Regions from separate parts of the Homo sapiens genome. Here all the other regions are reported to be linked to region 3. Evidence: microRNA targets listed by miRTarBase, many of them from high-throughput screens and not tested one by one. Region 3 holds a microRNA gene; each other region holds the end of a gene's coding sequence.

Region 1 (8,097 bases), not on the chromosome of region 3:
CCTTTCCCCAGCCCTATCTGGCTTTGTGCTTGTTCTCTCCTAGTGCCCTGGTGCTATGAGTTTCTCGCCATTTTGGCAGGGAGGAGCATTGAGCCTTCTCTGGGCCTTCTCCCACATGTTCTCCCTGTAGGGAACCATCCCCATCCTCCTCAAGCCTGGCACTGATGTCGAGACCAGCCCAGGTGCCACAGGCATCTGGTGAGCAGCCGAGAGGCAATGGTGCCAATCCCCCTGGAGCACCCCCGGAGGTGGAACCGTCCTCTGGCAACCCCAGCCCCCAGCAGGCAGCCTCTGTGCTGTTGCCACGATGCCGTCTCAACCCTGACAGCAGCTGGGCTCCCAAGAGAGTGGCCACAGCCAGCCCCTTTTCTGGACTCCAGAAGGCCCAGTCTGTGCACAGTCTGGTGCCACAGGGTGAGAAGCCTGATGGGTTCAGTGCCAGGGTGCAGGGTGTATGGAACACATGTACATGCTGGAGGAGGGAGGGCCTGGTGTGGCCCTGATGTGCCACTGTGCTGGCCACTAGGTGTCCCTTAATGGGCATGTGGAGGGGAACAGCAGCTCTTCGGGATTGGGTGTTGGCACCTGGGATGCCTTCCTCAACACCTGACCTGTGTATACCTCTGTCTCCTTTGCAGAAAGACATGAGGCCAGTCTGCAGGCCCCTTCACCAGGCGCACTGCTGTCTCGGGAGATCGAAGCTCAGGATGGTCTGGGCTCCCTGCCCCCAGCTGATGGCCGTCCGTCTCGGCCTCACTCCTATCAGAACCCCACCACCAGTTCCATGGCCAAGATATCCCGCAGTATCTCTGTTGGGGAGAACCTGGGCCTGGTGGCTGAACCTCAAGCTCATGCCCCCATCCGAGTCTCACCACTCAGCAAGCTGGCCCTGCCCAGCCGGGCTCACCTGGTCCTGGACATCCCCAAACCACTGCCTGACCGTCCTACCCTGGCTGCATTCTCTCCTGTCACCAAAGGCCGGGCCCCTGGCGAGGCAGAAAAGCCTGGCTTCCCGGTGGGCCTAGGAAAAGCTCACAGTACAACTGAGAGATGGGCCTGTTTGGGGGAGGGCACCACTCCCAAGCCTAGGACAGAGTGCCAGGCTCATCCTGGGCCCAGCAGCCCCTGTGCCCAGCAACTGCCAGTCAGCAGCCTCTTCCAAGGCCCTGAAAACTTGCAGCCCCCACCCCCTGAGAAGACTCCCAACCCCATGGAATGCACCAAGCCAGGGGCAGCCCTGAGCCAGGACTCAGGTGTGCACAGCTCCCCAGCTCTCATCTCCTGCCCCATCCTTACTCTCCCCTCTCTGTTGGCCGCTGTCTGGCTCCATCCCATTTCTGTGGGTACAGCTTCTGGTGTTTCTTGTCCTGTCTGCTCCTGTCGCAGGTCCGTAAGTCACACCCCTGATGGTGAGACCCTCCTGCTAACCTTCATGATTTCCTTGTGACTCACTTGCCCATTCAGTGGCTTCTGAACTTGGGGCTGGCCGTCTCCTCTGGACCTTGTTTGTGTGGTGTTGGGGAGGCCGTTGGAAGAGAAGCCAAGAGGAAGGGACTGAGGGCAAGTGGGGGGTGCAATGCTGAGGGCTAGGTCTCTCCTGTTCTGAGTGTCTTGGGTGCGGAGGCCTGAAAGGGCTACATGCTGGGCCTCACTGAGCTGTATCCGTCTCTTTCAGAGCCAGCGGTGAGCCTGGAGCAGTGTGAGCAGCTGGTGGCAGAGCTCCGCGGCAGCGTGCGCCAGGCAGTGCGGCTCTACCACTCGGTGGGTGTTAGGTGCCCCCCGGCAGGAAGGCGGGCACGTCAGTAGTGCTGGGTGTTTCGGATAACCATGTCCAGAACAGTATGCTAAGCCTCTTGTGCTGACAGGATGGCACACTCAAGAACATCTTGGGCAGCATAGGTGAGGGGGTTAGAGGCCAGGCTAGCCTCTTGTACCGGGCACCTGCGGTCATTTCTGGTTAAGAGCTGGAGACTTCCCTCAGGAGGTGAGGCCTGAAGAGACCACACCTCCTAGTTGGCTCAGGACAATCCCAGTTTATGTCGTTGTCCCAGTGTAATTATTAATGGCATCCTTTTTCATATCCATGAATTATTTGGCCCCCTTAGACATAGGGGACAGTCCAAGAAGGCCCAAACTTTGAAAGAGAAAGCAGATTCTGCCGGAGTTGTCATAAGGAGTTGCTTATAAGATGTAGACGGTTCTGCAATCCAATGGGTTCCTCCTTGGGCGTCACCCCCAGAGTCTGCCTGCATCCCATGTTCCCTGGCCATACATGCTGATCTTGGCGGGTAGAGTTCCCAGCTAGTCCCTTCTGAGGCAGGCTGGACCCAGGTGGGGCCCCTCCCTTTTATATGTCTGTTGACAGGCTCCTCCACCTCACTTCTGGGGGTGCTATTTCAGGTGGCTGGCTGCAAGATGCCCTCAGCAGAGCAAAGTCGGATTGCCCAGCTCCTCAGAGACACCTTCTCTTCAGTGCGACAGGAGCTGGAAGCTGTGGCTGGGGCAGTGCTGTCCAGCCCAGGCAGCAGCCCTGGGGCTGTGGGAGCCGAGCAGACACAGGCCCTGCTGGAGCAATACTCAGAACTGTTGCTTCGAGCCGTGGAACGGCGTATGGAACGCAAACTCTGAGTTCTGGAAGCCTGTCCCAAGTGAATGAATGCTCCAGCGATTCCAAACTGCAGCCCCTCTGCCCCTCACCAAAACCTGCGGGGCTGCTTGGAGTGGAAAGCAGGGAGCAGTGTTCAGAGGCAAAGCAGCCTTCCCAGCCGCTCCTCGTGGGGGGCCTGTATTTATTAATTTATTTCCCTGACTGTTGCCTCACTTCCTTGGAACTCCTGCCTCCACAGCCCCTCCAGTGGCAGGGACAGGTCTTGGGTCTTTGTCATCTTGGTGCTGTGAGAGGTAGGAGGGCAGCCTGCCCCATCTAGGAATCTGGGAAGGGCTGGCCCTCTCTTAGAAGCCATTTGAAATTACTGCAGGGATTAGCTCCCTGTGGTGGAGCATACACAGGGTACTCTGGGGTCGAGGTGAGAGGTGATGTGGTATTCAGTGCCCGTCAGCCAACTGTGGGCCTTCACCTCTACCTGCACTTCCCCTCTCACACCAGCTGCACTCCCGTGGCTGCCAGAGCAGGGTGGTTTTCCCCAATACCTGGAGCTCAGAAAGGCAGAGCCATCTGGCCCTCCAGGGTGTCCCCAGCCATCAGGAGACTTGAGTTGGTATTTGGACCTGAGCCCGCACATTCCACTCCCATTCTCCCTCCAAGAGGGGCCCAGCATTGTATTTCCCTGTGACCCCTTACTCTCCTGGCCAGAACTTGAGCCAGCTGTGGGATGTTGCTGCAGGACAGTAAGCCCTCACCTGGGCAAACATGAAGCTCTGGCCTCCTTTCCTCAGCCCCTTGTTCTTCCCTGTCCTCCACCCTGGACCCCAGCCGGCTGCTGGAGCCCAGAGGCCACCTTCTCCCTGCATCCTGAATGATGCTTAGTCAGAAGCCTGTGTTGGAACATCCCTCGTTTACGGGGCGCTGGCCTACCTCCTGAGGACCTCAGCCACAGATGAGATCACACGCATGCACGTGCACACATGTACACACACACACCTACCTGCACAGCACGCTGTTGAGTGTTGGTTGCTAGAGTATCTGGCTGGCTGCTGTGTGCCTGGTTTCCTCACATCCTGCCTCAGCTTCACCACCCTGGCTTATGTGGAACACCTATCAGGGAGCAGAAAAGGGGTGCAGTACACTAAGTGAACCCAGATTCTGGATTCTTGGTGTCCACAGCCTAGCTGATACGAGATAGCCCATAGGACACCTGGTTTAGGTAGAAGGAGCCTCCTCAAAGGCAGTGCTGGGCACCCACGGGTGTGCTGGATACTGGAGTTTGAGAGGAGGGAGGTGCTGGGGCCAAAGGAGACACTAGAAAAGTGGTAGATGGGACAGGTAAGTGGCAGAGGTGAGGGGATAAGTTAGAATGTAAAAGGGCAGTAATTAGGGGTGAGGGAAAGGAGATAGGGGACCCTAGGAGGTAGAGTGGGACCATGTCGTGAGGCAGTTGAAGAGTTGAGGAAAGGTTTTTCTGGGCCCTACTGCTCCCCTCTGCTGCAGGTAAGTCAGAGCAGCTTTACCACAGCTTCAGGCCACGAGAGCCCCTTCACCCGCCCTGCTGCGCCATAGGCAGAGGCTTATAAAGAAATGGGTTCTGGGCCAGGTGTGGTGGCTCAAGCCTGTAATCCCAGCACTTTGGGAGGCCGAGGCGGGTGGATCACCTGAGGTTAGGAGTTCGAGATCAGCCTGGCCAACATGGTGAAACCCTGTCTACTAAAAATAAAAAAATTAGCTGGGCGTGGTGGTGGGCGCCTGTAATCCCAGCTACTCGGGAGGTTTAGGCAGGAGAATCGCTTGAACCCTGGAGGTGGAGGTGGAGGTTGCAGTGAGCCGAGATCGCGCCATTGCACTCCAACCTAGGTGACAAAGCTACACGCCATCTCAAAAAAAAAAAAGAAAAAGGGTTACAAAAGGTTCCCAGCTCCGGGGCATCAGCCTGAGTGCGCTTGAGCTGCTCCAAACCTGGCCCTTCCCCACTCCTCTAGCATCGCCACCCGCATGGCCCTGGAACTCCCGCGGCGGCGGGGGCGGGCCCGTGCCTGCTGTGCCCCGACTTCCCACACCAGCCGCGCCCACCGCAGGTGGGACTCAGGTTCGCCCTCTGGGCCAGGTCCTTCACGAGGAGGGAGCTACCCTTCGCCAGAAGTTTGTGAGAATGTGGCCGCCCTTTTCCTGCCCTCTGCCCCATGTGGGTGGGGGGCCTCGTGGCCCGGCCGGCGCCCCGTCCCCTTCTGCATGTCTGAGGCCACCGGCAACCGCCGCCCCACTCCAGATTTGCCCCCGCCTTGTTTTGAAAGCCCCTTATTTATAACTTTTATACTTTGTGCAGGTCGCGGCGCTTCCTGCCTCATCCTCGGCTGCATGGGGCGGGGGCGCTGTTTTTAACGTGCCCGTTTGTACTGATGTATGAACTTGTCAATAAACACAATTGTTTGTTAACCCTGGGATGCCGGCCAGTGGGGCAGGCCGAAGCGGGCGCTGCCAGTCGCTCCACCGCTTCGGTGGCAGAACCCGGTGTGTGTCCAGGGGCAGGACGGGGCGGGGTGCTGGGGGTGTGGCCTGCGGCGGGTGCCTCTGGAAGGGCGGGGCGAGGGTCTGGGGGTGTGGCCTGCGGCGGGGACTCTGGGGAGGGCGGGGCGAGTGCTTGGGGTGTGGCCTGCGGCGGGGCGTCGGGGAAAGGCGGGGTCTCGGCCGGCGCTGACGCAGCCATGGCGGAGGCGGCTTTGGAAGCCGTGCGGAGCGAGTTACGAGAATTCCCGGCCGCTGCAAGGGGTGAGTGGCTCTCCCACAGGCTGCGGCGATTTCCGAACACGGGAGGGGCCCTGGGATGCCGCTGACACCGGGGGCTCGGAACCTCGTGTGTGCGACTGCCCTGAGGCCCCGCTCGGGTTGCTCTTCTGTGGCAACCTGCTTCCCTTCTCCCGTGTTCGCGCGCTCCCGCGGCTTCCTGGGTGATTCTGTTCACGTTGTTCCCAAGGCCCGGTGCCGTCTTGACCGTGGTCGCGGCGAAGCCCTGTGTTTCCTACAGTCTTGAGCAGCTTGCTGTTACCCTTGTTGAAAGCTCATCGAAGGCACACAGCTGGTGGTCGGATTCCTCCCCCACGCGCCCCACCTCCGACCTCAACTCCCTTGTCGCACTTTGGGAGGATTGCAGGCTGACCAAATGGTCCCTGGCTCTTCCCCTGCTTGGTTTTTATTCCTTTTCTTTCTTTCTCTCTTCCCTCCTTCCTTCTTTTTTCTATTTTTAAATGATTTCTTACCACTGAACAGCAACACAGGCTCATGTGTATGTGATGGGTATGTAATATACAGTGGTACGCAATGTAAATGAAGCAAGGTTTCCTCCCAGCCCCAGTTTGCATTCTTACAGAAAGATTGTTTATATCCGTGCACACACGACTTTTTACCCTTTTTTTGTACAAATAGTAGCCTGCTAAACACACTCTTCTGCACCGTGTATCTTGGAGATCATTTCACATTCCTCTACCTCAGTCTTTTTCACGTCTGTGTGCTAGTGCTGTATTCACTTAGTCATTTAGGTCATGTCCAATCCGTTGTTTTCAATAATGCTGCAACGAATACTTTGAGGATTGATTTAACAAATACTTATTCAGCATCTCTGTGTGCCAGGCTCTGTTCAGTGTGTTTGAGATACATCACTGAACAAAACAAATCTGTCTTTTACAGTCTATGTCCTGTTACATTCTAAGTGAGAACGTGGACAATCAACCACAGGTGTACTGAATGAGTACATTGTAGAGTAGAAGAAGTAGGTTAGAAGGTAAGTGCAGGCAAAGCCCTCTTTGGGAGTATGCCTGATGTGTTTAGGAAACAGTGAAGAAGCCAGTCTGCAGGAGCAGCGTCTTCTGCGCATGTGTGAGTATGTTTGTTGGTTAAATACTTTATATTTTTTGAGACAGGGTCTTACTCTGTCACACAGGCTGGAGTGCAGTGGCACGATCATAGCTCGCTGCACCTCGACCTCCCAGGTTCAAGAGATCCTCCTGCTTCAGCACCTGGGAGTAGCTGAGACTACAGGCATGCGCCACCACGCCTGGCTAATTTTTTTGAATTTTAGTAGAGACAAGGCTGGTCTCAGATTCCTCAAACAATCCTTCCACCTCAGCATTCCAAAGTTTTGGAACGCCATGGAACACATAAGCCACTGCTCCCGGCCTTGTTAAATTCTTAGCAGAGTTATGGGGTCAAAGCAATTGTTTGGATCCCTTTTGAAATTTTCTCACTTGGAAGCCCCAGGAGAGGAAAGCAGCCATTCTCTAAAGGAAATGGTGAGCAAGTAAAACAAATCCCTAATTGCAGAAGTCCAAAGGGTGAAAAAATGGCAGTTTCCATGTATTTTCAGAATCCCAGGCTGTGTGCAGTACTCACGCCTGTAATCCTAGCACTTCAGGAGACCAAGGTGGGAGGCATCTCTTGAGGCCAGGAGTTCAAGACCAGCGTGGGCAACATAGTGAGACACCATCGTGTGGTGGCATGTGCCTGTAGTCCCACCTCCTGAGGCAAGAGGATTGTTTGAGTCCAGCAGTTTTGATGACAGTGGCGGGCAGTTGGAAGCAGATGCTGTCATCATGCTGGCTGCAGTGGGGAGGCACAAGTCGGGCAGCAGAAGTGGCTCTGGGAGCAGCAGTGGTGGTAGTGAGTCCCCTGTTCCCTGCATCCCCGAGGCAGCCGACTGCACCACCCCCACCCTCACATGGCTGGGCAGGACCTGCTCCTCAGCCCAGACCCTCTGCTGCAGCCTGAACCTCGCTCCCTGCCACATCCCAGAAGCCTGCGAGCACCCTGCCAAAGGTGCAACTGGGACTTGTAGGGACTTGCACTTGTGAGTACAAAAATACTCACACATGTGCACAAAGACCCTGCTCCTGCAAACTGGCTTCTTCACTGTTTCCGGAACACAGGACTACTAGGCTCATTTGTTTGGGGTGGTCAGAGCTGCCATGCCATATGCACCTTGCCCGCCGCCGCTGTGGGGAAAACGTGAAGAGGAGAGGCAGCTGGGGCCACATGTTCCACAGAGCTGGCGGGAACTGGGGACAAGTGGGAGCCCCACCCCTTCCAAGTTGGTGGAGTGGGAGCTCCCTAGGCGCAATTACAGCCACCCAAGCCAGGACTGCAACTCAGGCACCCCTGTGCTCTTGGGAGCTAGGAGCAGGCAGGAGCCCCACCCTCCTAGATGCAGCTGCAGCCTCCCAAGCTGCAGCTGTGGACCCAGGCATGTCTGCACTTTTGGGGACCCAGGAAGGCCCCTTCCTGCTGCCGCAGGCTTGGAAGTGCCTGATCCTGCTGTCTGGCTTCTCCCCACTGTCAGCACCTGATCAGATCATGGAGCAAAGTTGAGGCCGAGCCTGGGTGCTATTGCAGTGCTGACACACCAGCCCCCTGCCTCCTTGGCCCCCTCTGGCCTTTGGGTGCCAACGAGCATGGGAGGGAGGCCAAGAGGGGCTGAGGGCAGCTCAGTGCTGGCC
Region 2 (10,228 bases), not on the chromosome of region 3:
CCCCACTGTGAGAAGGAAGTCTATTCGATTTTTTTTTCTCATCAAGTAGGAAGACTTCCCAGTACTCATTCTACCCAACCTGTCTCACCCTCCAGCACTAGCTTGGCTACCTTTACACAGCTGCTGCTCGGGATACACTAAGCACAATTATTCCTGAATATTTGTGTCTTGTGTCCTCAGATCAGAGAATTCTATTACAGGTAACAAGTATGGTCCAGATAACCAGGCAGTCCAAAGGGAGACTGAGGCTTGGCTGACGCTGAAAAACGGTTACAGAAGGACAAGTGCTGGCACAGAGCCTTGGCCACCCATCTCTGCCCCCAAGTGCAATTCATTTTCTTTGAAAGAGGAAAACAGGCAAGGGAGAAAATATATAGAATTGAAAATACATTATGCAAATGTGGCTAGCAAGGATTAAATTGTTAATTTTAGAGAAATAGGAGAAAGATGCCCAAGTTGTGCTGAAGCAAGGAACCAGGACTTTCTTAATAATTAGTTTTGTCAGTCCAGTAGTGTGCAAAGGTTGAGCTGCTTGTCCCCAGGGACAGAAATCCCATAATTTTGAAAGTCTTTTGACCAAGAGCTGGCTCAAAGCAGAATATGTGCAATGCGTTTCTTAACTATTGAAAATCTTGTCACCACGGGATATAGACATGCTAGTCAGACTTCCGTACCATGACAGAAGGTCAAATCTGAAGCAGTAAAAGAGATCACATAAATATTGCCATCTCATTTCCAAGCTAGTCCCCTTAACTATTAAAACACGGTGACCAGATCGCTGCTTCGGGCCTCCTGAACTCCCGCCTCTCCCACCCGGAAAGTACTGACCCAGAGAGGACACACCTTTGCTTCTGCGCAGCCCAACTTCTGCAAGCGCTCAAGAGTTAATTACTCCTTCACCTTCCTGGGGCCTAACAGCGTTACTGGGTCCTGATTATTTATACAGACGAAAAACGATGTTCAAGAGATTTTGACAACTTAAAAAAAAAAAAAAGAATGCGGTGGAAGTCTAAGATTGCCTCCCCTATGACAAAACACAGCCCCGCCGGCCGCCCGGGCCCGACTCCGCCCGCCCGCCCGCCGCAGTTTCGGGGCTGCGGCCCGGGGGACGCGGGCGCGGCAGGGCTGGGGTCTCCTCCGGGAGTCGCGGGGCGCACGGGCCGGGAGGGGCACGCGGGCGGCACCTCGCACCCGAGCGGCTCCCGGGCCCGGCGCCCGCTCACCTGGTGCGTGTTGTTGGCCAGCTTGGCGACGAAGTCCCGGACCCGGCCGCACTCCTCGTCCTCGCCCGGCGCGCTGCGACGCCAACGGCCGCCGCGGGGAAACGCGCCCCCGGCTGCGGCCGCCCGCAGCCCCCAGCTCACCCCGATGGGGCCAGACCAGCGCGGCAGCGGCGCAGCGGGCGGCGGCGGCGCGTCCAGCCGGTCCTGGCTGAGGGTCGACGGCGGCAGCAGCTGCAGGAGGAGGAGGAGGCCGAGGCCATGGGGCCAGCGCGAGAGGCCGTCCGCAGCTCCCCAGGGCCGCTCCATCGCCGCCGAATGCCGCCGACGCCGACACCTGCCGCCCGGCGCGCCCGCCCACCCCCGCCGGCGCGCGCCACACCCCCGAGCCGAGCGCGGCGCTCCTTGGATACGCGCGGCCGGGCCTCTCCGCCCCATAGGCTGGCCGCCTGTCCCTCTTCCCCGGCCCACTCCTCATTGGCTCGCGTCGCCTCCGGCTTCGGGGGTCCTGGATTCGGATGCTAAGATGCGGGACTGATTGGCTGGAACGGGGCAGAGACTGCTGAGGTCAACCCCGCCTCGCCCGGCGTCTCCCGGGCCCGGCTTGTGGAGTTCACGTAGGAGCTTCTCATACCTTCCCGCCGAGCCCCGGGCTCCTGGCGTCGCGACCCCTTGCCGCACCTCTAGCGCCCTCAAGTTGGGGCTGGGTTACGTCCCTCCTGTTCCCCAGAGACACTCCTAAAATTCCTTCGGTGAGGCAGAGCCTGGAAAAACCTACCCAGGAAATCCCTGAGCTTGCTCAGCTGGAAAAGGGGGCTCCATCATGAACCGGGGCTTCGGGTTTTTATAAACCCCGCTCACTGGAGCGCCCATTGTCTGCTAAGCAGCTGCCTTGCTGCAAGAAGGTGAATGCGAACTGATGTGGGCCACATCCTACGGAGACAGACATCAGGACATCCGTGACTCCTGCAAGCCTGAAGAATAGTCTTTCCATACGTTTGGCCTCTCTCACCTTCCTCTTCTGAGGGGAGGTAGGCCAAAGGCGGAATTACTTACAGGTTTTCCAGGACTTCGAATGTAGCTTAGGCATTAGGGGCAGGTAAAAGAGGGGCAAGAGAATGATCCAATGCCTACTGTACACATGATCATTTCCTAGATGCACATTTATTTTACCAAAGTGCCTTAACTCTGCAGTGAGAGCTTCGGACAAGTTTGGTTCCAGTATGTGATGTCCTCTAAATTAGCACCCCGATCCACCTCTAATGAATAAAATAAAACCCCTACGCTGTTCCCTTTACCGCAGAAGCTGCACACACAACTTCTACAACACGTAGCACAGGTAAAACCAGTTCTGAATCCTTAAGCTTACTGACTCCATCCCTTCAGAAAGCTAGAAATTGTTCAGTAGAAAAGGTAGCAAATAGAAAGATACAAAATATGCAAGTCATTACACTCAAAGCAAGTAAAGATTACTTTTAATTATAAACTGGCCATAAACCCAAATGAGGATATAGTCATTGTAGAGCAAAATGATACAATGCACCCAACCCGATATTTACATTAAAATATTTCCAGTCACATTAACTTTCAAACAAAAAGACTTAACGAATTTACAAATTTTTCCAAGACGTGAGAAGTGAAAAATGTTTTTGAATGCCATCTGAGCAGGATAGTAAAATCACTAGAATAGTCTTTTTAAGTTCTCAGTTACTGGACTGAAAAGATAAAGCTGATGAAAATTGGTGAACAATTTGTTCCTTTCCATAACTACTATCAGATTAATTTAAAAAAGATTATTTTTAAATCTATGCCAACTATGGGAGTAGATCACAAGACAGTCAGTTCCAGTAGCATGTGATTAGGTGGGGGGAGGAAAGGGGGTTATAAAGGAATATTTCTTTGTTTGGGTGACACAAAGATGAATGGTCTATTGTCTTACTGTCTGAAAAGAAAAAACAACTCAACAGTGCCACCTCCTGGAGAAATTACCAAATACACTTTTAAACGCTATTAAATTTGTTCCAATTATCTGTACCTTCACTTTTTAGTATGTTGCTTTTAGTTATCACAGGCTTACAGTACTTATATATTTCCTTCTTCAAACTGTATCAGCTTCTGGGACATGGTAACTTGCATATGGCACTGAGAAAATGTTTGAGTGAATATATTTATTATTTCACTTTTTAAATTGGAAACCCTAGGAACTATATTTCATTTTTGTCTAATGAGATTGACATTAAATATAAAAGTGGCACTGTCAGTTCTCCTTTGTGAGATACTGGACATAAGATTTCACCTTATTTGCAGGACTAAAGTAAATTTATCTTATTACTAAAAACCGTACCTTTCTCCAGGAAACATTCTATAGCAGAAAGATAACATAAAGCAATTACACATCATGAAACCATTGCTGTTCGTAGTAAGATCACTTCTTTAACCTAAGAAAGCTTGTTTTAATATTCTACAAAAAAATCAAAGTTCTACCTCTTTGAAGAATGCCAATTATAGAAGGTACGAAATTTACTGTTTTACCAGGTAAAACACAAATATGCTGCCCAGCCAGTGGGAGGGAAAACAACTTAAGCTGAGGCGAACGGACATAGGCTAAGAGCTACTCCTTAGTATTTGGGCATTTTTCCCCCTATGAAATGCATGTGATTCAGAGACACAACTCACCTCTCCCAAAAGCAACATGGGCTTTATCCATTTCTGCATTAACCTAGAGTTAAAAAGGAATATTGTTTATTGTTTGGCTCTCCCCACTAGAAGTTTCACAGGAGCACAGATCATATCTACCATTTGAACAGCTCTCTGCCTGATGGCTAATACATTTCTTGGCATATAGTAGGTAGGTGCTCAATAAATTTGTTACAGGAATAAATGAGATAGGATTTTCAAGGGTATTTTCTATTAGGATTTAATAAAACAAAGTGATCTTTAGAGAAACAAATCTCCCCATCAACATGCTATACTTAATAAGTGTTAAAATCACTAGAAGTCTCTGGAACATTCAGTAACAATATACTCTAATTCTCTGCTTTCCTTATGTGTTATTCTAGGGCAAAATCCCTTTCTTCCAAATGTTTCCTATCATTGCAGTTTCCAAATGTATATAAACATGTTGTTTTTTGTTGAACTACAGTATGGATTTAGTATGAATTCAGCCTATCCAAATAGTCATAATTTATTAACATATAGTACAACTTCCTACACATCAATATACCCAGAGCCCAGCAAATAATTATGGGGTCCCTGTTAGTGAATTAAATCAATTCTGCATCATCCACATATGGATTAGCCATGTTGTGGACAGTGCAAGTACTTTTCAAATCTCCAGATTTCCCTATTACTCAAGAGCTGGTGATCTGAAACAAGAAAATTTGAGCTGTTCAAGTCCCAACAGCTTAATTTTGTGTGTCCATGGGCACACAGCATTAGATTCTTCATCTGTTAAGTAGTGATACTGATACCATCTTCCCGTGGTAATTTTTGAGGCTGAGATAGAATGATTCTTTAAACAATCTCCACCAATCATATGATGGCAGCTCTAATGGGGAAAGTTCATCATTCATTCCAAAGTCTAATGTAAACTGCTTCTGAATTTTACAATTCTCTTACTGATATAGAGATTTGTAATTGATTGCCAGTGAGGCCAAGGTCATTAATTTAATTCTTAGTCCTTCACTTCGTAAACAAGGAAATCTCTTTCCAAATTGTCTATCAAGACCCAAGAACTGGTACAACACTGTTGATGGCTGATTCCAACCCATCAATGTTTTGAGGAGGACCTCAAAACATGTTCTTCTGATAGTCAATTAGTAGCATCTCCTTATAAGAAAAGCAGCAAAAATACACGTTTGCTCCAGAAATTATAGGGCCGAAATGGATTTACAGTGCTGTTAACATCTATTAACCACTGGGAAGAGCTGGACTAGTTCATTTATCAACACCATGGGATTAATGGATATAGTTGATTCTGTTATAGAGCATCACTAAAACAGTTTTAGAACAGACATCTTCATAGAATAGGGATATTAATAACACTGTCCTTTTGGCCCACTAACATTTGCATTTCAAACAAAAGACTGTATTACAATGGCTGGGCACAGTGGCTCTCGCCTATAATCCTAGCACTTCAGGAGGCAGAGGCGGGAAGATCACTTGAACCCAGGAGTTTGAAACCAGCCTGGGCAATATAGTGAGACCTCATCTCTTAAAAAAAAAAAAAAAAAAAAGACTATTAGAAGAGAACAGTCTATTAACAAATATTTTAAAATTTTCTTTATTTCAGAACTGCCTTTATGTACAGACATCATTTAAAAAATGCACATACAATGGAGATTTTCCAAGGAACAGGAGCTGGAAATAAAATTTAAGGACATTATTAGAACTGAAATTGTCCCAGAGAAGTTCTGAGGATCAGGATTCCTTAAATGTCCTTGATAACCTCTTCAAGTTCTTCCTTTGTGAACATGTGGAAATTCTGGCCAGGCTGCACTGTGGCTAGCTGGAAAGAAAACAGAAGGGTTAATAAGCTGGGCTGAGTTACCCTGCTGATGGCCCTACCATGGTCAGGAGAAGCTGTGTTGGTGATGCAGCTATTCATTAGGAACTAAGGGATCTGCTGTCCCAAGGATATCCTTTCCAGGCAGCAGGTCCCTAAAATAGCTCTCTGGCTCCAAAATAAAAATGCTTATTGACCAAATTTTCTATTTTAAGGTTAACTCACCACATCATACTTAACCAAATGCCTGGCATCATTGTCACTTCTTGAAGTCACTTCAACAGGGATCACAAAAGCAGCAGCAAAGTACATGGAGTCAGTACTTTTTTCTGTTAAAGACTCCTTTAGAAATATATTTGAAGTATATTTAAATACTTAAAAGTTGAGCTTGTGTGTGTGACTTGAGGTTACTTGGCCACTCTGTGCCTCTATTTCTTCATCTGTACAATGAGGACAATAAGAATAGCTAATTCATAGAGTAGTTGTGAGGATTAAATGTTAATATATATAAAGTGCTTAGACCATTATTGCCTACAACAAATAATCATTAACTATTGTCAGGTATTTTCTCTAAAATTGTTTATGTGGCAAAACTTAACAAAAAAGTTTTTTTTGTTTGTTTTTGGTTTTGTTTTGAGATGGAGTTTCGCTCTTGTTGTTCAGGCTGGAGTGCAATGGCGTGATCTAGGCTCACCGCAACCTCCGCCTCCCGGGTTCAAGCGATTCTCCTGCCTCAGCCTCTCGAGTAGCTGGGATTACAGACATGCGCCACCACACCCGGCTAATTTTGTATTTTTAGTAGAGACGGCGATTCTCCATGTTGGTCAGGCTGGTCTCGAACTCCCAACCTCAGGTGATCTGCCCACCTCAGCTTCCCAAAGTGCTAGGATTACAGATGTGAGCTACTGCACCTGGCCTGTTACGTTTTTTTAAAAGAACTGGCCAAGAAAAGATTTCATTAACACTGGCATAGGAAACCAGTTGTGACTGCTGAAGATATCAGTAATAACTGGAAATCCAGATTATATTTACATTTAAAAGCAACAACAACAATAAAAAACTAGGGTCAGAAGATGGTTAATTTCAAATTTAACTATCATGACTAGGTTTTCCATTCTCTCTGTTGATCATGTCCCACAGTTTTGGGCAATACTGAGCAATAGGTGCCACTTCACATTTGCCTCAAAAGATTTGTGTTTTACATGTCATTTCCTCATAGTGTCTTTTTTCTTCAATTTTTAAAATTAAACACATGGCTGGAAACAGTAGCTCATGCTTGTAACCCCAGCACTTTGGGAGACTGAGGCGGGAGGATCACTTGAGCCCGAGAGTCAAAAACCAGCCTGGACAACACAGGGAGACCCCGTGTCTACCAAAAAAAAAAAACCCCAAAAACTAGCAGGGGGTGTAGCAAACGCCTGTGTCCCACGTACTCAGGAGGCTGAGGTGGGAGAATTGCTTAACCCTGGGAGGTTGTGGCTGCAGTGAGTTGTGATCATCCCACTGCACTCCAGCCTGGGTGACAGAAAGAGGCTCTGTCTAAAACAATAAATTAATTAATAATAATTTTTTAAAATTAAATATAGTAGGGCATTTTAAAGTAATTTTCAGTACTAATATTTAATGTAACTTGAAAGTTGCTAGAGAGAATCAGCATAATCCAGTTATATGATGTTTAGTATCCTCTGCCTCATCTATAAGTAAAATTCAGAAAGACTGCTGCAAGTCTTAAGACATCTGATATCTGGGAACAGACTTAAAAAAAAAGTTCTCCTCTCAAAGCTTGTAGTCTCCTCTAGATTCTCCTAAAAGATATATCTCTAATTACATGAAATGTCAGAAAAGTCCCAAATATATCTGCAAAATATAGGTAAACAATTAGTTTACCATGTAGACCATGAGTTCCATTCCAAGGATATTTAAACATACAAATATTATTACTGCTTCTCTTGGCCAGGCGTGGTAGCCTGTAATTCCTTCAATTATGGCACTTTGGGAGGCTGGGGCAGGCAGATCACTTGAGGTCAGGAGTTCGAGACCAGCCTGGTGAACATGGCAAAACCCTGTCTCTACTAAAAATACAATAATTAGTCGGGCATGGTGGCACACGCCTGTAGGCCCAGCTGAGGCACAAGAATTGCTCGAACATGGGATGTGGAGGTTGCAGTGAGCTGAGATCGCACCACTGCACTTAGCCCAGGCAACAAAGTGAGATCCTGTCTCAAATAAATAAATAAATAAATAAATAAAAATGTTACTACTGCTTCTCTTAAGATATATCTTTACTTGATGATCAATGACATGAGGACAGAGAAATATAAGAGCAATAATCTAAAGAGTGAGGGCCTAAAGAATTTCACTCATGACTCAGGCTAGCCTTCTCAAAACATTACAGGGGCTAAAAAGCAGAAACTGGGAAAACTCTGAGTGGAACAGTCCTACAGAAGAACTGGAACGCAAATCAATACTATTAATAATAGCGTCTGAGCCAAGGACTGCCTTCAGGAAGTTGCTCATCACTAGATAAGTAAAAATAATCCCTTACATTTGCATAATAATAAATGTATTTGCATAATATGAAAGATACTTTTCTATTTATTATCTCACTTTCAAAAAACATCTCTATGAGGCAGGTAGAACAGATATTTTCTTTCAATTTATTTCACCAATAATTAATTACTAAGCACCTGTGTATTAGTTACATGTACTTGTGACTAAGGATCCAAAGATGAAGAAAGTCTTTATTTACTAAGTGCTAGATGCCAAATGTGTTCAATGTCAGGTAAGTGTTGTAATAGAACTAAGAATATGTTTAAGAGTGATCTGGAGGAGCCCAGGAAGGCTTCAGGGAGAAGCAACTTTTGAGTTGTGTATTAAAGCATGGCAAGAATGGGTCAGACAGTCAAAGACAGGAAGGGCAAACAATGTGCAAATGCACAGAACCACAAAAGAACACGACATATTTGCAAAACTGAAAGTAATTCTGTATGGCTAGACCACAGCTTGCACATGGAATATGACGTGAAAAGGAGAGGGAGTAGGGGGTCAGAGCTCATGGGAGACAGTACGTTAAAGTGGTTAAAAGTATAAGACCTAAGACCAGACCTGGATTCAAATCCTGACTCTACCATTTACCTGTTGGCCCTACCGTCTCAAAGCCAGTTTCCTCTTCTGTAAAATAAGATTTTCGGAATAGGAATATCTATCTCATAGAAGTGTTGTGAAGATTAAGAGATGTAATTGCATGTAAAATGCTTAGCAAAGTCTCTAATAGATTAAACAAATGACTTAAGAAGTAGTGAATTATGCCATGAAAAGAATTTTGGAATTTATCTCACAGACAATAGAAGTCAGAAAAGGTTTTTTTTTTTTTTTTTTTTGAGACAGAGTCTCGCTCTGGAGTGCAGTGGCGTGATTCCAGCTCACTGCAACCTCCGCCTCCTGGGTTCAAGCAATTCTCATGCCTCAGCCTCCCAAGTACCTGGGATTACAGGCACATGTCACCGTGCTTAGCTAATTTCTTGTATTTTTATTAGAGACAGGGGTTTCACCATATTGGCCTGGCTGGTCTTGAACTCCTGGCCTCAAGTGATCCACCCATCTTGGCTTACCAAAGTGCTGGGATTACAGGTGTGAGCCACATGTCCAGCCAGAAAATATTTTTTAAGTGGAGAACCATTAAGATTAGATATAGCTTAGAAAATCCACTATAGTAGCACAATGAGGAAAAAATGGACTGAAATGGAGGAGGGCAAGATTAATTAGGAAGCCTCTGAAAATATACAAGGTAGGGGAAAAATGGGAACCTGAACAAAAGGCGGCACTGGAAGTAGGGATGGAGAAGGGACATGGATTTGGGAGTTATTTATAAGGGAGCAAAGAAATGACTGAGTAAAAGGGAAGGAAAGTCAAAGTCTTCCAGGTTTCTCGTGTGAATGACAAGTACCCTGGGGGTGTCATCAACCAAGATTAGAAATATGGGAAGATGAAATGGTTTTTAGGAAAGATAATGATTTTAATTTTAGAACTGTCAAATCTGAGGTGAATCCTTCAAAAAAGTCAAATGATAGTTCCAAAGAGTGACCATGAAATCTGACAAATAAGAGTTATCTTAGCAAGGAGCAGTCTCATGGAAATAATAAAAGCTGAAACAAATAGTAGTGATTGAGGAGTAAATGAGAGGTGAAGCAGTGGAGATAATACAGGTTCTGTTTGGAGGAGACTTGGCAATAAAGGTGAAAAAATAGGATGGATGAGATAGCACTCAGCAATGAAATGTAACAGAATTGATGCAACACAGGTGAATCTCAAAATCATGCCAAGTGAAAGAAGTATAGTCCCTATAATCACCTATAGTCCCAATTACTCAGGAGGCTGAGGCAGGAGAACTGCCTGAGGCCAGGAGTTTAAGACCAGTCTGGGCAACACAGCAAGACCCCATCTCTAAAAAAATTAAAAAACATTAGCCAGGCATGGTGTGTGCACCTGTAGTCCCAGCTACTCG
Region 3 (10,228 bases):
AACCCTCATTCTTGGATCCTATGTCTTTACTTCCCAGGAGCACTCGGTCTTGGTGCTCTAGCCCAGGAGCTGCTGGGACACTCAGTCCAGACCTCTGCCCTCCCCCGGGTCCCCTTACCTGGCAGTGGAGCCCGAGGGGGAAGTTGTGCGGGCCAGGACTGGGCAGGTGGTGGATGCAGGAGTGGGGGCCCCAACTGGGGCTGCCCCAGGCCCTGGTGCGGCGGAGGCAGCAGCGCAGGAGCCCCTGGTGGCTGGAGGTGGTGGAGGGAGGCCTGGGGTGGGGGCACCCCAGTCTGCGGCTGGGAGAACACAGAGAGTGGCTCAGAGGCTCCTGGTAGAGACTCCCCACCTCTCAACACAGACACTGCTCAGAGATGGAATCAGCTAGTGGTGAGGGGAAGTTTTTCTTCAAAGGTGGGGGATGGACGGAGAGGAGGCGGTCTGCCTTCTGCCTAAAGCCCTGGGCGGGTCCCCATTCACACCCACTGACCACAGTCAACCTCCCTCCTCCCAGACAACAGGACCAGAACCACCAGGGCCAGGATCTGGAACTCTCGCTACCCCACCCCAACATCTCACCGGTGGTGGGTTGAGGAGGAGGCTTCGCAGCTGAGGGTTGGCCCCAGGGTTCTGGGGCCGAAGGATGGGTCCAGGAGGGGGTGGGCCAGAAGCTGCTCCAGGAGGGCCTTGAGGGGCACCTGGCGGGGGCTGGGCAGTACCTTGGGGCTGGGGCTGCCCCGTGGCCCCAGAGGCCCCTACGGTACCCTGAGGCTGGGGCTGCGGTGGGCGGAGCTGGAGCTGGTGGGAAGAGACACAGGGGTGAGGGAGATGGGCAGGGCCTCACGCCCCTTCTGCAGGCACAGAGCGCAGCCTTGGGGCCTCCCCAACCCAGCCCCGACCCCGCCAGCCCTGTCCTCACCAGATTCTGTGAGGGCCTGGCTTGGTCCTCCAGAATGGGCCCCAGCCCTGGGGGTGCCTGCTGTCCCCCCATCTGCACGGGGAGAGAGGGGCAGGTCAGTAACTGAGGGTGGTGGCATCCTGAATCTGAGGCGGGAGGGCCTGTGCCCTGAGGGGAACTAGTAAGGAGATGGGGACATTCTCTTTGGGGGTGAGTGGTCTGGGAGGGATGCCGTACACTCCAAGGTCTCCAGGAGGAAGCTGTGTCAGGGCTTTGATGTGGATGCTGAAAAAGGAGAGAGACTGCAAGAAAATCTGAGTGGGACTTAGCTTGGAGGCACCACATATTGGGAGAAGGGTGGGCATCTTGGTCCTGGAGACCCCAGGGGGCCATGTGGGGCCCGGGCAGGAGGGGGTCGGAGTGCTGGTTTGGGGACTGTCAACACTCACTCCTCGCTGCTGCTGCTCCAGCTTCTGCTGCTGGACCTGCTTGTGGTTGGTGATGACCTGCCGGATGCCGTTGACGAAGCCGCTCTGGTCGTAGGGGATGAGGCCCATGAAGATCTTCTTCTTGGACGAGTACAGGAGCATGAGCACGCGCACCTCACAGGGCGCCGTGTGGGGGAAGTGCACGCAGCCCGCCTGGGTGGACAACAGCTCTTCAGAACCATTCAGGCCCTGAAAGAGGCAGCCCTGACCCCCTCCCCATTCCAGAAGGCTCTAGAGGCCCCACAGGCAAGGTGAGGTGAGGTTTCTGCTATAGAAGGTTAAGGAGAACAGGTGTGCTATGGGTTGCTCTGGAGACAGAAACTGAGGCGCTCAGGGCAAGCTAGGGTTCCAGCTGCCCACTGAGAGGGAAAGCGGAGAGAAAGTGCTGGAGCCCAGCTCTTCAACCTTCAGCCACCACCTGCTCCTCATGGACCCAGTTTCTTGGGCATAAAATGCCACGGCGGCCTCCTCAGAGGGCGGCTGAGGGTCACGGCCGGGAGAGCGGCCTAGATGCACAGCGTGGTACCCACAGGCCTGTGATCAACGGTGGGTCGGACCCCGGGTATCCAAGAGATCCTCCAGCCCTCAGCACCGGCCAGTGTACACCACGGGGAGTGCTCCCACATCACAGGGTCGCTGTGACTATGCGATGTCTGATCCACAGCAAGAGCCCTGCCTGAGGCTCAGCCCACAGGAAGCACCCAGGAAACATCACTGGTCATCAGGGGGGTAACACATGGAGCATTCAGGGCAGGGGCTCCTGAGGGAGGCGAGGCTGACCTTGGCCAAGTGAATTGACTTCTCTGAGCCTCGGTTTCCTGCCTGAGACAGACCCTGCTAGCTGCCTATTCCATATCCAAGTGTCCTCCTCCCCTGCATTCCCAATGCTGTCTGGGGCTGTAACATGTCCCAGCCCCAGACAGTCACGGATACCTGCTCCCAGCAGCCTCCCATCAACTAGGGGCTGCCCAGTGGCCTAGGTCCGGGATAGGAGGTGAAAGGAATGCCTGCTCTGGAATCTGAGAAAGTTTCTGCTGTCTTGAAGAAAGGGAAACACACAGCCCCCTTCCCCTCCTTCATGAAAGCACACAGGATGCGTGGAGCCATGAGAGCTACCTTGTGACTATAAAGGAGAGGCCAAGAGAACCACAGGGCCCTGTCCCTGATGTCACAGACCTATGAAACCAATCCCAATAGCTGGCCCCCTCTAGATGTCCTGTCCTGTGCAAAATATAAATGCCTGCTCCTACAACGCCTGCCCTCTCAGAACCCAGCTGCCACAGTGTGGCCACGTGGACAGGCCATGTGCAGACACTGGGATGGCCGGTCCTAGCCAAGCCCCAGCCAACAGCCAGGGCTGTGTGAGGAGCTGTTTTGAACATCCAGCCCAGTAAAGGTTTCAGATGACCAGAGTCTCAGCTGCCATCTGATGGCAACCCCGTGAGAGTCGCCAAGCGAGATGGCCCACTGAGCCCAGGTGACCCACAGAATCATAAGAGAACATTTTTTCCGAGTGCCCCCAATTATCTATGTGTTTGGGAAACTACGTGATTTGCAGCCGGAAGTACTAACTCTCAGGAATGCCTTCTTCACAAGGTTCTGTGAGGGTCTCGTGAGGTGATCCCCCTAAGGTTCTCTTTCCTGCAGGAGTGCCTGGTGCACGGAAGTAACTGATCTGCTCCTTCCCCGAGTTACAAAGTGTGAACTGTGACTCCCAGAAAGCTATGCTGAGGCTGGGCGCGGTGGCTCACACCGGTAATCCTAGCACTTTGGGAGGCCGAGGCAGGCAGATCACTTGAGGTCAGAAGTTCGAGACCAACCTGGCCAACATGGTGAAACCCTGTCTCTACTAAAAAATACAGAAATTAGCTGGGCATAGTGGCACATGCCTGTAATCCCAGCTACTTGGGAGGCTGAGGCAGGAGAATCGCTTGAACCCAGGAGACGGAAGTTGCTGTGAGCCAAGATTGCACCACTGCACTCCAGCCTGGCTGACAACAGTGAAACTCTGTCTCAAAAAACAAAACCAGAAAGCTAAGCTGAGGTTCCAGTCCCCAGCACCTGTGAAGGTGACTCTATCTGGAAAGAGGGTCTTTGCAATTGTAGTAAGATGAGGTCAGGAAAATGGGGCCTAATCCAAAATTACTGATGTCCTTATAAGCACAGACACAAAGATACAGAGAGAATGCCATGTGGAGACACACACAGAGGGAAGACAGCTGCGGGATGGAGGAAGACCCTGGAGCGATGCCACCTGAAGCCTGGGGTTACCGGCCGGAAGAGGCAACGAAGAGGCCTTCCCTCCAGCCTCTAGAGAGAGCGTGGCCCTGCTGACACCCTGACCTTGGGCTTCTGGCCTCCAGAACTGGGATAGAACACGTTTCTGTTGTTTTAAGCCCCTCTGCTTGTGGTAATGTGTTACCACAGCCACAGGAAATGAACACATCCCATAAAGCCATGCCAGAATCAACAGCTTCCTCCTAACTGATCCTGTCACATCCAGCTCACATTTTTAATGTGGAATATCCCTCAAATCTGGTGCATACGATGATTATAATAAAAGTCACGGCTCTAGAAGAAAGGCGAGGAACCTAAGGGCATGAAGTGCACCCAACCATCAAAAACGGCTTCCGTGGGCCCAGGCACTCTGGGATTCCCGTCAAAGGTCAGCAGAAAGCAGGACAAGAGTCAACACCCCTCGGCCCCCCATGCCCTGGACTCACGAAGCCGTTGCCCATGATGCGGTAGAGGCCTTTGAGAGACTCCAGGTCCTTGTTGGTGAAATGGAACTGGACCATCCTTGAGTTCCGGAACAAAGGGCCCAGGGTGGTCTGCGGGAGACACAGAAGTCGGCTGGCATGCTGGTGTGGGCAAGTGAGGCGGGGACATGAGGCAGGGAGTGGGGGTGGGGCAGGGAACAGGAAAGAGACAGCAGGGTGAGGACTGCCCGGCAGCAGGGCTGGCCCTCCACCGCCACTCACCAGCAGCTGCTGGGGGATGAGCTGCATGATCAGCTTCTGGGGCCACTGCTCCGTCTTCCTGGGGGCGATGCCAGGAGAGGTGTGAGGAGGGGGCCAGCCCCAGCCCCACCACACCCCGCCCCTGACTGTCACCTACAGGTTCTCGCCATGATTCACGTAGACCTGGCAGGGCAGTGACCGCGTCAGCTTGGTGTTGGCATCCACTGAGGCAGGTTTGGGTTTCTGAGGGGGAAAAAAGAGCATGTCAGTAAAAAGGGCCATAAGCCTCAGTCCCCTTGAGCCCTCATGTCCTACCCTGGTAGCCCCAAAGCTCAGGATGTTCCCCAGTTTAAGTCCCATGAGCCCCAGGCCCCTCCTCCAGACCAGCAAGCCTTCAGTTCCTCAAATGTTACAGCTACGTGCCCGGCCCCTAAATCCCACCATCCACTGTGCCCCAGATGATACATCGCCTGGGCTCTTCTCTGGGCCCCAAATCCTGGGCTTTTCTGGGTTCTTTGCATGGGGACTCTCCTCTGTACCGCAAGTCCCACCACTCCATGGGGCTCCTGGCCTCGCCCCGCATCCCACAGGTCCAGCGCAACGAATGCCTCCAAACCCAGCACTGCAGACCCCACGCATCTGGCCCCATGAGTCCTACATGCCCAGCCCCACGGCCCCAGGAGTCCCAAGTGCCCAATGGACCCTCAGGCCCCTCACCTCTTGCCACTCCAGGACCCCGCTCCAGGCCAGAAGCTTATTGGAGACTGACTGCTGCCCACCGAGGGCTGGGGCTCCCAGCTGGGCTGGGGAAGGGCCGCTCACCCCTCCTGGGGCCACAGTGCCTGCCTGCCAGAGGGGAGGAAGGAGGGCCATGAGAATGGGGAAGGCCGGGAGCCTCCGGGGGCCATCCTGTGAGGGCAAACCAGGAAGGAGGAAAGATCCCTTCTTCTGCCCCTCCATCCCCAGAACAGCACTTGGCCAGCCGCAGGACCCCAAATGCTTGGACCTTGCAGGATTCGAGGACTCGTAAGCTGTGCGATGCCCTGGACTCCCAGACCCAGGGATTCCTTGGGTTTCTCGGAACAGCCCTGACCCTCCTGGAGCCATGAGCCTCCCCACTCTGTCCCCAGACCCTCATCTCAGGCATCTGCAGCACACACACCACGAGCCCCCAAAGCCCCAGAACCACGAGAGCCACATCCCCCTGGAAGGCAAATGACTCATCCTCTAACTGTCCTAGCTGTGGACAGCAGGAGGAAGGAGCAGGGGCAGGAGGCGTGCAGGCACCTACCATGGACGGTGCCCCGGGCTGTGCCGTGGGAGCCAGGCCGGAGCCAGGGGCCACAGTGGAGACCAGACTGGGCTGGGAAGCAGGTGGTGGCTTGGGGGCGCCAGGGGGTCCTGGGGGTAGTTGGGGAGCTGGGGCCTGGCTGAAGGGGGGACCCACTCCGGGAGCAGCTTGTTGGAGAGGGGTGATGGGCGAGACTGTGGGAGAGACCAAGGGAAGAAGTGGGGAACAAGTGTGTGGAGAGAGGCCTGCCTGGCCCCTGCCCGCCCTTCATCCTCACTCCAGGACTCACAGCGAGGGCCCAGCCCAGCCTTCTGGTTCTTGGCAGCCTCCACTGCATTCTGCGCGGCCACCTGAGCTGCACTCAGGTTCCCGGGAACCTGTGGGTAGAAGGGAAGAAGGGAAGGGACTGGTGAGGACCATGGCCCCCCAGTCCTGGTATCCCACGAGGTCACACCACCCATGGCCCCATGAGGCACCAGCTGGGATAGCTTAGCTCACAACACCCATCACACAGCACATGAGCTTCCATGGCCCCAAGAGTCCCACCTTCCCAATGTCCCATGGGACTCCCATCATCCCACAAGCTCCAACATGCAACTAGATTTCTCCCCAGGGGCCAGGGCTCCAGCAAGTCCCCAGAAGCATGTCCCTTCCCGGAAATATCCATACCTGGTACTGCGGGGGGACGGGGGGCAGAGGCTGCTGGGGGGCTGCTGAGAGAGTGGCACCTGAGGGTGCGGCGGGAGGCAGGGGGACTGGCTGCTTTGACTGGAGGGGGCCTGGGGCTGAGCCACCCCCAACTGAGAGCAGGAGGGATGGCCAACCCCAGAGAGAAGGGATTCAAGATGCAGAGAAAGGAGAGAAATCCAAAATCCAAGTCAGAGGGAGCTGGGGAAACACGTCGAGCCCCCATCCCCGCGCACGGTGCCCAGGCCTCACCAGGCAGCACGAGTCCCCGAACCAGCACCATGTGCCTCGGGTCCTGGCTCACATCTGTCGGAGGCTGCAGCGGCTCCAGCAAGGCCGGGGGGGCTGCCTTCTCAAACAGAAGCCGAAGCGCAGGCAGCTTCCGGGGAGACACAATGGAGAAGTGGATCCCCCGCTGTAGGAGAGGGGCCGAGCAGTCATGACGGGCCCCCTCCATAAGGGTGTTGGGGCCGGCCCCCAACCTACCACAACTGCTGTGTGGCTGGACGGCACCAGCCCTACAACCACAATTCCCATTGGGCTTTGAGGCAGGAGACCCTGAAACCAGGTATCACCTGCCCCGGGAGACTCTGGGTTCTAGTTTTGTCAGTAAGACTAAGTGGGCCAGGTGTGGAGGCTCACGTCTGTAATCCCAGGATTTTGTGAGACCGAGTCAGGCAGATCACATGAGGCCAGGAGTTTGAGAGCAGTCTGGCCAACATGGTGAAACCTCATCTCTACTAAAGATACAAAAATCAGCTGGGCGTGGTGGCGGGCGTCTATAATCCCAGCTACTCGGGAGGCTGAAACATGAGAATTGCTTGAACCCTGGAGGCAGAGGCTGCAGTGGGCCAAGATCACACCACTGCACTCCAGCCTGGGTAACAGAGCCAGACTGTTTCGAAAAGAGAGTAAGCAAAGCTGGTCACCAGTCTGTGACTATTCTGTGTCTGAGTCCAGGCCCCCAGTGCCTCCCCGCTTAGACCCAAGAGTCCAGGCCCCCAGTGCCTCCTCCCTCAGACCCAGGAGTCCAGGCCCTCAGTGCCTCCTGCCTCAGACCCAAGACTCCGGGCCCCCAGACCCTCGTCCCTCAGACCCTGGAGTCCTCACCTCCCCAATCTGCTGCACAAGATTCTCAGTTGTGCATCCAGAGTACGTGGTGCTCTCAACAGCAGGCAACAAGTATGGGGGTGAGTTGCAGATGAGGAGGCAGACCCGGTGCGTCTGGCCACTACCAGGAAAGAGAGAAGACATGGAGCCAGCAGCAACAGAGGCCCTGAGAAGGAACCCAGACCCAGCACCAGCGGAGATGCACATATTCCGCCTCACATGGAATCAGAAGCAACGCCCCTACTTTACAGCTGAGAACACTGAGGCTCCAAGAGGTTCTGGGATGTGCTCTACGTCACCCAGCAGGCAGGGCAGGCAGGAGTGACACCCAGAGTTGGCACTGCTTCCTGATGGGGATGCTGAGACCGGGCACTGGCCAGGCGTCCCCCAAGGACACACCTGCAGCCTCCTGGCTCAGCGTGCTTGGGGACACAGAGCCCATGCCCTACAGGGTGAGGCTGGAGGTAGAACCACTCGACAGGCAAAGTGGTTCCAGGCCAGGCAGAGAGAGACCGGCCCGGCCTGGGTGGAGGGGGCACTCACATCTGCTCGCGCATCTTCTTGAAGTCATCAAACAGCTGCAAGGCTGTGCTGAGTCCTTCCGCGATGAGGCTGCAGCTCTCACCACCCCCGCCCATGAACCTGCAGGGGCAGAGCGGTCAGCCCCCAGGGTTGCCATCATCCCCATCCCCAGGCTATGCTTGAAGAGCCTGCTCCCATGCTGTCCCCCACTCTATCCTGGGCTATGCACCTTGGGATGACGGGGACCCTGCTGAGTTCCCTACCCAATCCCTGGTGCTAGCACAGCACCAGTCCCAGACAGGACAGGGGACATTTGCTGTCTGTGTTTTTTTTTTTTTTTGAGATGGAGTCTCGCTCTGTCGCCCAGGCTGGAATGCAGTGGCATGATCTCAGTTCACTGCAAGCTCCGCTTCCTGGGTTCATGCCATTCTCCTGCCTCAGTCTCCCGAGTAGCTGGGACTACAGGTGCCTGCCACCACACCTGGCTAATTTTTTGTATTTTTAGTAGAGACGGGATTTCACCATGTTAGCCAGGATGGTCTCCATCTCCTGACCTCATGATCCACTTGCCTCAGCCTCCCAAAGTGCTGGGATTGCAGGAGTGAGCCACCACACCCGGCCGACATTTGTTGTCTTTAATCATGAGGACTGGGAGGGAATGGGAAAGGGCTGGGGACCCCAAGCCTAGGATCCTGTGCTGACTCCAACCCTGGAGTGACTGACTCCATGCCCAGCCTCCTGCTGTCCCCTCCCCTCTCTGGGCTGTCTGCTCCAAATCAGTCCTGGCCCCACTTCACCTTCCCAGCCAGAGACGGGGGCCTCCTCTGTCCTCCTAGTCTTATGGGTTCAAGTGTGCCCCCTTCAAAAAGACAGGTTGAGGTCCTAAGCCCCAGTACCTCAGAAGGTGACCTAATTTGGAAAGATCTTTACACAGGTAATCGAGTTAAATTGCGGGCCCTAATCCACTATGGCTGGTGTCTGTGAAAAGGAGAAACGTGGACACGGACACACACACAGAGGGAAGACACAAGGACACAGAGAGACACAGGGAGAGGCCATGTGAGGACGGGTGATGCAGCCTCAGCAGGCACCAGGAAAGGCAGAAGGGCCCTTCCCCTGTAAGATTTCAGAGACAGCCTGGCCCTACCACCTGGATTTTGGACTTCCAGCCTCCAGAACCCTGAGACATCAATTTCCATTCTTCTGGCCAGTTTCTCATACTTTGCTACGGCAGCCTGGGAAACTAACACACACAGACTCTCGTTTCTCCTCCGCCTGATCTGCAGTCGCGTCGCAGCATCCGTCCCACATGGGTTGTGGCCCGGGGATGGCCTCTCCTCAAGGGCAGCTGTGGTTGCCACCATTATTCCGGTCACGTGGTCGTGAGAGGCTGACCTTTGCTGCAGGGGACGTGTGTGGAGACCGAGCACCCCTCTGAGGGTCTTGAGGGCCCTGTCCCCCTGAAGTGTGGTCTCTGATCCTACCTCTCCCACAGGCGGGGATGGGGTCTGAGTCCTCTCTTACCCCCAGGCTTGCCCACCACAGCGGGGCACATGTGAGGCCTCAGGAAATGTAGGCTAAGTGAATGAACGTCTACAGGCCCAACCGTGTCCATCAAGACTGGAACCAACCCAGGCCCTCGGCCCGGCATCGGCCCAGCATCCGAGGCCTCCGAGTCCTGCACCCCGTCCATCTCTCCTGCTCCATGCCCGCACCTATAGGTCCTCTCAACTGACAAAGCCCAGACATCCAGGTCTCTGCATGTGCTGGAACACACCCATTCCGGCCCGGATGGAATCCAGCTAAACTACGACACCCATCCTGGTGTGCCCTCCTATAGGAAGCCTTCCCTACATGCCACCTAATTTTACGGCCTGCCCTTAGTCACATCATAGATCACCCGATACTGCAGCTGTCAAGCTTCTCTCCGCACCCTGTGCAGCCCTCCAAGAGAGACACCAAGGCGTCTGACCCTAGGTCACACAAGGCCTAGGAACCATCTGCTGAGTACTCAGTGCACTGGTGGCCTGGCAGGGCCATGCAGCGGGGCTCTCCGCTTCCTGCCTGAGTTCTCGCACTGATTTCCTTCCAGTCCCACTCGGCCCGGCCAGTGAGCACACTGAGCCCCTGAGCCTTCTTCCTGCTCTCAGGGCACTCGGGCGCTGCTCCCAACCCACCACACACTTCCCAGCCCTCCTCTTCCTAGCCATCAAAACAGCTTTTGTTTTTGAGACGGAGTCTCGCTCTGTCTCCCAGGCTGGAGGGCAGAGGC

The links. The annotated mature microRNA hsa-miR-6800-3p reads CACCUCUCCUGGCAUCGCCCC and lies in region 3 at 4,429-4,449, opposite strand. An mRNA with a match to its seed (bases 2 to 7 or 8) in the 3' UTR can be bound and repressed. Matches are read on the target gene's strand: a 7mer-m8 pairs with bases 2 to 8, a 7mer-A1 pairs with bases 2 to 7 and ends in A, and an 8mer does both.
Region 1: the mRNA of MAPKBP1 is a reported target of hsa-miR-6800-3p. Seed matches in the 3' UTR shown: 8mer at 2,897-2,904 and 7mer-m8 at 3,029-3,035.
Region 2: miRTarBase lists PSMA5 as a target of hsa-miR-6800-3p. Seed matches in the 3' UTR shown: 7mer-m8 at 3,895-3,901 and 7mer-A1 at 3,702-3,708.

What each region holds. Positions count from the first base shown.
Region 1 is chr15:41,822,809-41,830,905 of GRCh38, forward strand. MAPKBP1 (mitogen-activated protein kinase binding protein 1) reads left to right here. Exons shown (of 31, transcript NM_014994.3): 28 at 131-414; 29 at 639-1,253; 30 at 1,676-1,761; 31 at 2,401-5,047. The coding sequence ends at 2,628. It overlaps JMJD7-PLA2G4B (JMJD7-PLA2G4B readthrough), which reads left to right and starts at 5,284. Exons shown (of 25, transcript NM_005090.4): 1 at 5,284-5,380. The coding sequence starts at 5,317. JMJD7 (jumonji domain containing 7) reads left to right here and starts at 5,284. Exons shown (of 8, transcript NM_001114632.2): 1 at 5,284-5,380. The coding sequence starts at 5,317. RefSeq lists enhancers at 2,954-3,836, 4,882-5,111, 5,143-5,437 and a silencer at 5,172-5,261.
Region 2 is chr1:109,396,364-109,406,591 of GRCh38, forward strand. It overlaps PSMA5 (proteasome 20S subunit alpha 5), which reads right to left. Exons shown (of 9, transcript NM_002790.4): 9 at 2,679-5,727. The coding sequence ends at 5,650. SORT1 (sortilin 1) reads right to left here and starts at 1,555. Exons shown (of 20, transcript NM_002959.7): 1 at 1,224-1,555. The coding sequence starts at 1,529. RefSeq lists silencers at 1,332-1,431, 1,442-1,511, 1,552-1,681 and an enhancer at 1,708-2,689.
Region 3 is chr19:49,826,297-49,836,524 of GRCh38, reverse strand. MIR6800 (microRNA 6800) reads right to left here and starts at 4,507; the gene lies at 4,426-4,507. MED25 (mediator complex subunit 25) reads right to left here. Exons shown (of 18, transcript NM_030973.4): 4 at 7,978-8,076; 5 at 7,435-7,555; 6 at 6,577-6,739; 7 at 6,307-6,437; 8 at 5,927-6,014; 9 at 5,638-5,831; 10 at 5,064-5,192; 11 at 4,504-4,589; 12 at 4,368-4,425; 13 at 4,110-4,217; 14 at 1,348-1,539; 15 at 920-991; 16 at 580-798; 17 at 119-299. RefSeq lists enhancers at 965-1,465, 1,466-1,966.